Linked DNA regions of Homo sapiens: region 2 is linked to region 1. The links come from fine-mapping of genetic effects on gene expression. A gene starts in region 1. The other region holds a variant in brackets. All regions are shown on one strand. Distances are between the middles of the regions. Region 1 holds the start of RRAGD (Ras related GTP binding D). Region 2 overlaps RRAGD (Ras related GTP binding D).

The links. PIP is the estimated chance that this variant, and not a neighbour inherited with it, causes the effect.
Region 2: its variant is fine-mapped to the expression of RRAGD in CD4 T cells (BLUEPRINT, PIP 0.95).

Annotation. Positions count from the first base shown.
Region 1 is chr6:89,410,695-89,415,083 of GRCh38, reverse strand. It overlaps RRAGD (Ras related GTP binding D), which reads left to right and starts at 2,811. Exons shown (of 7, transcript NM_021244.5): 1 at 2,811-3,238. The coding sequence starts at 3,091. RefSeq lists silencers at 2,395-3,584, 3,615-3,724, 3,755-3,854.
Region 2 is chr6:89,366,657-89,371,045 of GRCh38, reverse strand. It overlaps RRAGD (Ras related GTP binding D), which reads left to right. Exons shown (of 7, transcript NM_021244.5): 7 at 2,839-4,389. The coding sequence ends at 2,990. Among named protein-coding and RNA genes, the nearest start is that of UBE2J1, 16 kb to the right of the region's middle. RefSeq lists an enhancer at 2,780-3,009. The variant G/A (reference allele first, on the strand shown) is at 1,551.

The DNA of each region.
Region 1 (4,389 bases):
GTAGTAAATTAGAATATCTTAAATCTGTATATGACTCTTTAGCTTGGGGTAGAATATAATTGAGGATTTGACTTCTACTGATTTTTTTGTGGGATTTTATTTTATTCTTATTCTTAAGAATGGTCCAGGTTGGGTGCGGTGGCTCATGCCTGTAATCCCAGCACTTTGGGAGGCCGAAGTGGGTGGATCACCTGAGGTCAGGAGTTCGAGACCAGCCTGGCCAACATGGTGAAACGCTGTCTCTACTAAAAATACAAAAATTAGCTGGGTGTGGTGGTGCATGCCTGTAGTCCCAGCTACTCAGGGGCTGAGGCAAGAGAATCGCTTGAACCTGGGGGGTAGGGGTTGCAGTGAGCTGAGATCATGTCACTACACTCCATCCTGGGTGATAGAGTGAGACTCCATGTTAAAAGAAAAAAACAAAAGAATGGTCCAATTCTCAAGTATCTTGGAGTGTGCCCCAATCTATTGTTTCCTTCTAAGATCTCTCTTCCTGGGGAAGTTAGAGGATCATCAGACATTTCTGTCCTTTCTAGTCCATAGGCACAGTGGGGCTGTTGGATTATGACCTGCCCTTTCCTGATCCCTTGAGTCCATGGGTCTTACACACTTGGCAACCTGCCCAGGAATGCCCTATACGTCTGAGTCTGGGTTGACCTTGGACAGTCTTCTAGATCTCCTAAATTGTTATTTGCAGTTTGAATCAGACCAGTTCAAAGGCCACTTGAGGATGGTGGGCTAGCTATAGAATAGCTGAAAGTCCTCAGCCACACTCTGGGAGGCCCTCCTCCCTGGGGTTTCCTTTGACGGAAGGGATGAAAATAGGCTAGGAAAATTACTCCTAGGAAATGAGCTTTGTAAGTACCTGAGATTTTTTTTCCGCCTCATTTAATCTTCCTAATAATCCTTAGAAGGAGTGATGTTCTATTGATAAGCAATCGGGTTTAGAAGGGCATAAGTAACTTGCCTCTGATGGGAGTATGTAGTGCCTGCTTGTGTTGGTGATGCTCCTTGCACCTCACCCCACCCAGGGACCCACTCCCTGCCCTCCCTATCCAATCTCTGTCCTGGACTAGGTTCCAGGCTCCCTTGCCTTCTGGCTACCAGATGGGTTTGGCCAATGGGAGACACAGGAGAGTGGAGGGAGGATGGATGGAGAGAAAGAGAGGTCTTTGCTCTCTCCTTGATGTGAGGCCGTTCTGGCAGCAGCAGCTTCCTCATCAGTTACAGCTCCTGTTTTGTGGCCCCTCTCCAGGACTCTAGCTCCCTTCCTCACTCCTGTAAATTTAGGGGTGGTGTTATCTTCCCACTATCGCTAATACCTGCATTGATTCCCTAAACTCTGTCCACACCCCTGTAAATTGTTCCTTCACTTGAAGGCTTCAGTTAAAGTCTTTGCACATACCGTCTGTTTCATCCTGGGAAGAACCTTAACTGATACAGTCATACCAAATTATACTGCCTGCCTCCCTTGGAAAATCTCAGGACCTTTCCCATTAGAAGCAGCCACCTTCTGGAAAGTGTCTGCATCCACCTTCTGCACTCAGAAATACTAAAAAAAATCCAGGACATGAGTCATGATTTGGTAGACTGTGAGCTCCTTCAGGGCAGGAACACTGCCCTGAGCATTCTTGGACCCTCTACTTAGCCCAGCCTCAGGCATATAGGAGGTGGTTAATAAATGTTTCCTATGGAGGTTAGCACCCTTGGGCCCTGAGAGTCTCCTGCCCTAGCTTCCTCCCTCCGCTTCTGCACCGCACCACCGGCTGAGCTGCTGGCACCTGTAGGAGCTGGATCATCATGCTGACCGGCCGGTTTTTTCTTATTGTGCTCCACAGAAGGAAGTTCATCCACGTAATTTTTTGCAGTACCCAGAAAGGGTGGGTACAGTGTGTTCCGTGGTGAAAAGCTTGTGAAGGAGGAATGCAGGTTTTAGAGTCTCACTCCACGTTGCTGCTATTCCTATTTGAGAATTGCCCCCCCACCACCGCCACTCCCCTACTCCCACAAAAGCCTTGAAATATTTTATTCATGTGGGATTACAGTCTATGCAACAATGAGACATGAGGAGGTGGCCATGAATAGCCCCCGAGTGTGTTATACACTGAGACCTTTTCCAAAGGGCTGCAGAGGAATTATTTAGTCTAAGCAGCCACGAGTCATGTGATTTCTTCAGAAACATTTACGTCTGGGTAGGCCTGCTTTTTAAATATTCTTGGTGGGAAGCACTTTGAACCATAAAGGCACACTAAAAGACAATTGCTATGGAGACTGCGCCTCCACTGTGCATTTATCTGAGTTCTCCGCCTGGGGCTCTTGAGCGTCCACAGGGTGTCCTGGGCACGCTGCTCTGGGGTGGGGGATCTGGGCGCCACAGTGTTGGGAGGCCACCCGCTTGGGACCCTAGCTCAGGACTGTAAGCAGGAGGCATCCGCCCACGGTAGACGCTCTGCGGGCGTGTGGGAGTGGGACGGCGGGGGGGACATTGAGGGTGTGCGGCGCCCCCTCCCCTGCCTGTGCGGGGACCACGTGAAGGAGAGGCGCGTGGGGGCCCCTGGCGCGCAGCCGCGGTGGGTGACGGCCGGCGTCCCGGGGGCCCCGTGTACGGGGCGTGTGTCGGTGTGAGTCTGGGAGGGTGCAGGGGCCCCGCGCCTCCCCGGTCTCCTCGTGCGTGTGCGTGTGCGTGTGCATGTGTGTCCTCGGCCCAGCGCCCCGCCGAGTGGTGCCCGCGGCCGGGCGAGCGCGCGCGCGCCCGTGCGGGGTGTGTATGTGAGTATGTGACAGTGTGTGTCAGGTGACTCGGGTCACGCAGTCTCTCTCTCTCTCCCTCCTCCGGGAGGAACTGCCGCGCTCCGGCTGACTCCTCCGCCGGCGGGCGGGGCGGGGGAGGGGGCTTCGGGCGCGCTGGGAACCGCGGGACCCGGACCTGGGCGCCGCCCGCCGGGGGACGCGCGGCCCCCGCTTCCGCCGGGCCCCGCTGAGCTCTAGACAAACCTCCGCTTCAGAAATAGGCTGCGGGCGGCCGGCTAGGAGGCTTGGCCCCCACCCCGGGACCCCCGCCGTCCCCGGGCCGGCCGGCCGGTGGGCACGATGAGCCAGGTGCTGGGGAAGCCGCAGCCGCAGGACGAGGACGACGCGGAGGAGGAGGAGGAGGAGGATGAGCTGGTGGGGCTAGCGGACTACGGAGACGGGCCCGACTCCTCCGACGCCGATCCGGACAGCGGCACAGAGGAGGGAGGTGAGCGCCCGGCCCCCGCGTCCTCGGCTCGCGCCCCTTTCCTCCCCTTGGCGCCTTCCCGCCCCCAGCCCGGCCGTGCGCGAGCCACCGACTTGGAGGGGGTCCAGGGGAGCGGGTCCAGTTGAGGGTTTGGGGTGGGGAGGGACGCCAAAAGCCCGACCTCGAGCTGCCAAATGAGGGAGCGCGGTGCTGGTGGCGGAGGGGCAACCAGGATCGGTGGAAAAGGGGAAGGAGGGAGTAAGCGTCTGGGCTGGAGGAGCGCGCGCTTCTGCCCCTTTCAGAGCCGGTGCCTCCCGCGCCCCTCACCCCAAGCTCTCCGCAGCGTCTGGCGGTTGGGGAGGGGAGGGGACCGCGGGCGCGCCCTGGGACCTCTCTCCCAGAACGGTGCTGTTGAAGCCAGGGTCAGATGTCGTGGCTAAAAAAAGGCAGCCGGCGGCGGCGTGACTGGCAGGGTCGTCGGCAGCTGCGGGTGTCAGTCTCGCCCCGCGTCGCCGCGGGAGGGGCCCACCCAGGTAGTGGCTGGGGAGACCCGCGGGGCGGCGGGGGGATGCTCGCCAAGCTGTTGTGGGAGTCTCCGAGAGGCCGCAGATTTCCCGGGATCCACGCAAACACCGTTGTCAGGACACCTTATCTGCTCTCGGTATCACCACCTGGACATGGCAGTGCCTGCCCGGGAGTGAGCGCGCGGCGGGGAATTCTTTGCTTCAATAGTGAAGCAAACTCTTTTTCCTGTTCTAGAAGCGGGTTTTAGCAATCGTTCAGCTTGTGGGGGCTTCCTGCATTTTCTTAAGGTGTAAGGAAGTTGAGAGCCTTTTAGTATTCCAGAGAGGTTAAACTTTTTTTAGTTTCCCTCAGAAGCGAGCAAAAGTTCCTTTACTGTAAGGTCACTTGGAAAGGTCAATAGAAAGCGGCTGTTAAACATGATGTTATTCTCAGTGAAACTGTATGCATCCAAGAGAAGGAACTAACTTTAATGTTTCACACTGAAGAAATTGTGTGAGAGATACAAGTACCTTTGTGACTATTGATTTTTAAAGAACTTTTATTGAGAATTCACTGAACTTATTTTAAATTCTCTATGCAAAGCTTTTCTCACTAGGGTAGTTTCATTATTCTACATCTGGCAGGCACGACTTTCAATGAATCAGAAA
Region 2 (4,389 bases), 44 kb after region 1:
TATATTACATATATTTCACTTACGTATATCATGAAATTTTCCTAATTCATTGGCCATGAAAACTTAATTTACATTGTTTATTTTTATCAGAAAAGTAATAGATTCTTTTAGAAAATTTAGAAATAATATTTAGCAAAAAAACAATAATTATCGATGTTTCTCATTCAGATAACTACTCTTAACATTTCCTGTATACTTTTCCAGTCCTTTCTTGCATATGCATTTTCTAAAAGGACTATGATAGATTGTATGATGAATTCTACTTTATAACCTTCACTTAAATTATTACAGACATGTTTCCAATTCACCGTCTTTTTTTAACCACATCATTTTAATGATTGTATTAGATTCTTCTATTTTCAGACATCTATGTTGTTTCTAGATTTTAATGTTATAAATAATATCATTATGACCTCTTTTGCACTAAATATTTATGTGCATCTTTGGTTGTTTCCTAAGGAAAAATTTAAAGTGGAATTACTTAGATCAAAAGGGTAGGCCCATTTTGGGGGCTTCTAATGCATATTACCAAAATGTTCTTCAGAAAGATTTTCTGGTTTTATGCTGCGAAGAGAATATGAATACTTATTTTGCTGTGTTCTTATCAATATTGGGTATTAGTATTTTTAAAAGTTGTTAACTGAAAACTGGTATATTATGTGAATTTACATTTTCTTGCTGCTTAGTGATGTCCTGTATTTTTCCTGTGTGTACCATGACTGACCAAATTGCCTTTTGTGTCCTTTGGCCTCAGAACTGTAAATTAAATGGTGTTCATCTTTTACTCCTTATTTTCATCTTGCTAGAAACAAGAACAGATTATATAATAGATCACGGAATTTTAAAGATAGACAGGAATACACCTTGTTTCACCCTCTCATGTCACAGATGATTTTACTCAGGCCTAGAAAATATAAATGACTTTCTCTCAACATCACACCACCACTTTATGGCAGTCAGGGCTAAAGGTTGCTGGCCTCAAGTGATCCTCCCTGCTCAGCCTCCCGAAGTGCTGTGCTGTGCCTGGCCTCCTGGTGTGCCTGGTGCCTGGGTGTTTTTATTGTGCAGCTAGGGTTGAGAACTCCTGAACCAGAGAAGGATGTGGGGCCTTATGAACTGTAGGTGGGGTGAAGAGAGTGTTTATTTTGTTTATGTCTCTGTTCATGTATTTTCAAAAACTTTTCATGAGGGTTGAAATAGCAAACACTGTTTATGGATATTTACTGTCTTTAAAAAGCCTCAGTTGTGAACTTTTACTTAAAATTCCAAACACAGCAAGATTACTGTTACATTTTGAAATGTGCAAAGATATGTAAGTTAAGGTTTGTCAAGAACAATAGGGGCGGGTGCCAGTGGTTCATGCCTATGATCCCAGCACTTTGGGAGGCCAAAGTGGAAGGATTGCTTGAGCCTAGAGGTTCAAGACCATCCTGGGCAACATAGTGAGACCTCATCTCTAGGAAAAATTCAAAAATGAGGTGGGAGGATTGCTTGAGCCCAGGAGGTTGAGACTGCAATGAGCTGTGATTGAGCCTTGCACTCCCACCTGG[G/A]TGACAGAGTGAGACCCTGCCTCAGAAATAAGAACAGGATATGTCTGAAATTTCCCAAGTTGAGTATTTCATTGTACCCTTCTCATTGAGCCAAGTTCTTTTAGCTAAGCTTTTTAAGACAGTTTGTTGCACATAAAAGCAGAGAATCTTGAGGCTCTCACATCTCATATTCAAATTGCCATTTAAAAATCGTTCCTTTGCTCCTTTGTTTTTATTACTTTTCCCCTTGCTTGTGACATTGGTCTTTCCTTGAGGAAATTGACTCCTGGTTTTACTGCACTAGTGGTTCACTCTCTCTGCAGAAGCAGCAGAGGGCACTACTCAGAGGTTTTCCTGCTCCTGGAAACCGAGACGGTGCCCTCCCCGCCCTCCCCTTGCAGTTAGTTGTATAACTAGTTTGAAGAATTTAATCCTTGGCCGGAATCCTAATTCTTCCTTTGGACGCGGCTCTAGAAGCATCCACTGATAGATAGAAATAATTGTTGGGCTAGTTATTTTAATAAATTCAAAGATAGTAAATAGAACTGACCACCTTATCCTAATTGGTGTAAACATAATGTTGCTCTCAGGACTTTTACAAATTACTAGTAATGATGAAAAATGCACTCATCAAGACTTTGGATTATCTTTTATTCTATTTTTTGTGTCACTGATACATTTCTGAAAACACAAGAAGATTCCCTCCTACTATTTCTCCACTTAAAATACTTAATACTGAAAAGCTGAGTGTCATTGGTTGTTGAATTTCTGCTGGAGTTGGCGAGATGACTGTTAACACTCTAAAATTAGGGGCTTCGCTTTCCCTCGGGCTTATGAGAATGGTTTAAATATAATAGATACTCAGTAAATATTTATTGATTGATACACAGCTTTGGGATCCCAAGTCAGGATCTGCCTCTACTCAGTCTAATAATGCCCTTTGGGGAGAAACATTTTTCATTACAGATTTCTCTTAATTGTAAGAAATCTTTAATTCTGAAAGGTTAAAAAAAAAGTTCAGTTCAGTCGTTCTTTAAATCTTTTGGGTCATAGGAACCTTTGAAAATATGGTCTATGCTCTGCAACCTTGCATCAGGAAAAATCTTCCTTCACAAGACTTTGCCTATAATTCCTAAAGATTTATAGCAATTTCTGAAGGCCAGCTGCAGACATCCCAGGGAAATCTCTGGTCCTTACGCTAAGACCATCCTCTACTGCCCCCTACTGGCTTGTCCTGGCCATGGGTCCCATGAAAAGATGGAGATTATTTCTACGTGACATTTATAAATATTTTTGTTCTCTTCTCCAGGGCTAATTGACTATAATTTTCATTGCTTCCGGAAGGCCATTCATGAAGTTTTTGAGGTGAGAATGAAAGTAGTAAAATCTCGAAAGGTTCAGAATCGGCTGCAGAAGAAAAAGAGAGCCACCCCTAATGGGACCCCTAGAGTGCTGCTGTAGGTGAGGTTTCAGGAATGTCTTTTGAAATCAGACCTTATCCATGAGGCTGCTGCGCCATGTTGCACTAAAGGAAGAGGAAGAAGGAGATTGGGACACATACCATTGATTTGTTGTTAAAAAAAAAAAATTCCTGCAACCCTCTTGATCTTCTCTTTTATAAATAAAGTAAGCACTTTGAAGCAAAAACTTGTATATTAACAGTGATGTGAAATCCATTGTCATTTCATTACACAAATGTAAACTTTTATGGTCTGTAGTCAAAAAAATCCCGTGTGAGAACTGCCAGGAATTGTACATATTTTGCACTTTTTCATGTTTCTCATTGAACTGAACTTTGATAAAACGACTTTTCTAAGCTTTTTTTCTGTACTTGGTGTCAAGGACATGCATACTGTAGTCCATATCTATATGGCAATCAGAAATTAATCAAAAAGTGATGCATTGGTAATGACTTTTTGTAAATTTGGAAATCTTTGCTACCAATTGTTGAGAAAAATCATTTTTCAGTGGAGCTGGAACAGATTGGAGCTACAAGCTCCAGGAGCAATAAGAACTGTCCCCTATTTATAATGGGTGTAAACAGTTTTGTAGAATAATGCTAGCACCAGACTTACCTAAAAATTTCTATAGCAGTGGCTGTGCTTCCCTGCTCAACGGTTTTTATGAAGCTGTTTACCTCAACACACATCTCTATAATCACTTTATACAGAGAGGTTATTTCTTTTTGTTGCATTAGTATTCTTTTGAAACTTTGGGACCAGATTTCCAAAATGGTGCCGAACACTGGAGAGAAGTAAGAATGTCACTGAATTGTAGGGTTTCTGGAGGCTTTTCTGTACCTACCACCCAGGGCTAAAGTAACATCAGAGGCCTAAAGTTGTTCCAAAAGTATGTGATTGGCAACTGCAGACTAAAAAACATAGATACAATTCTGGACTTTTGGCCCTGTGCGATGGTCTGGTGTGCTGCATTTAAAATGCTTATTCAGGACCAGTTCTTTATTGCTCCATGACCATAGTGAATAGAACAAATCGCAGAACCCCACCATGGAGCTCAATCCTGTTAGTCACTTTTGTCACCTCCACATCTCCTTCTCACTGGTGATAACATGCCTCATGTACTCCACTTGTTCCCACCTTATGATTAAGCCAAGCTCAGCCTGCCACCAGCATGCTCTGCAAGGCTGAAGAGTCATCCTGAAGACCCCTAAAGGTCAGTGGGAAAAGGATGGCTGGAGAGACATTACAATTAGCTGTGTAATTGTTTCTGTGAAATTATTTCACTTATGTTTACTTTAGACTAACAGGAAATTAAGAGTCCTAAATCTACCCCTATGCCAAATCATTCCAAGTAGATAATTTTACGTGCATCTCAAGGGTTAGCACCCTAAGGCATGCTT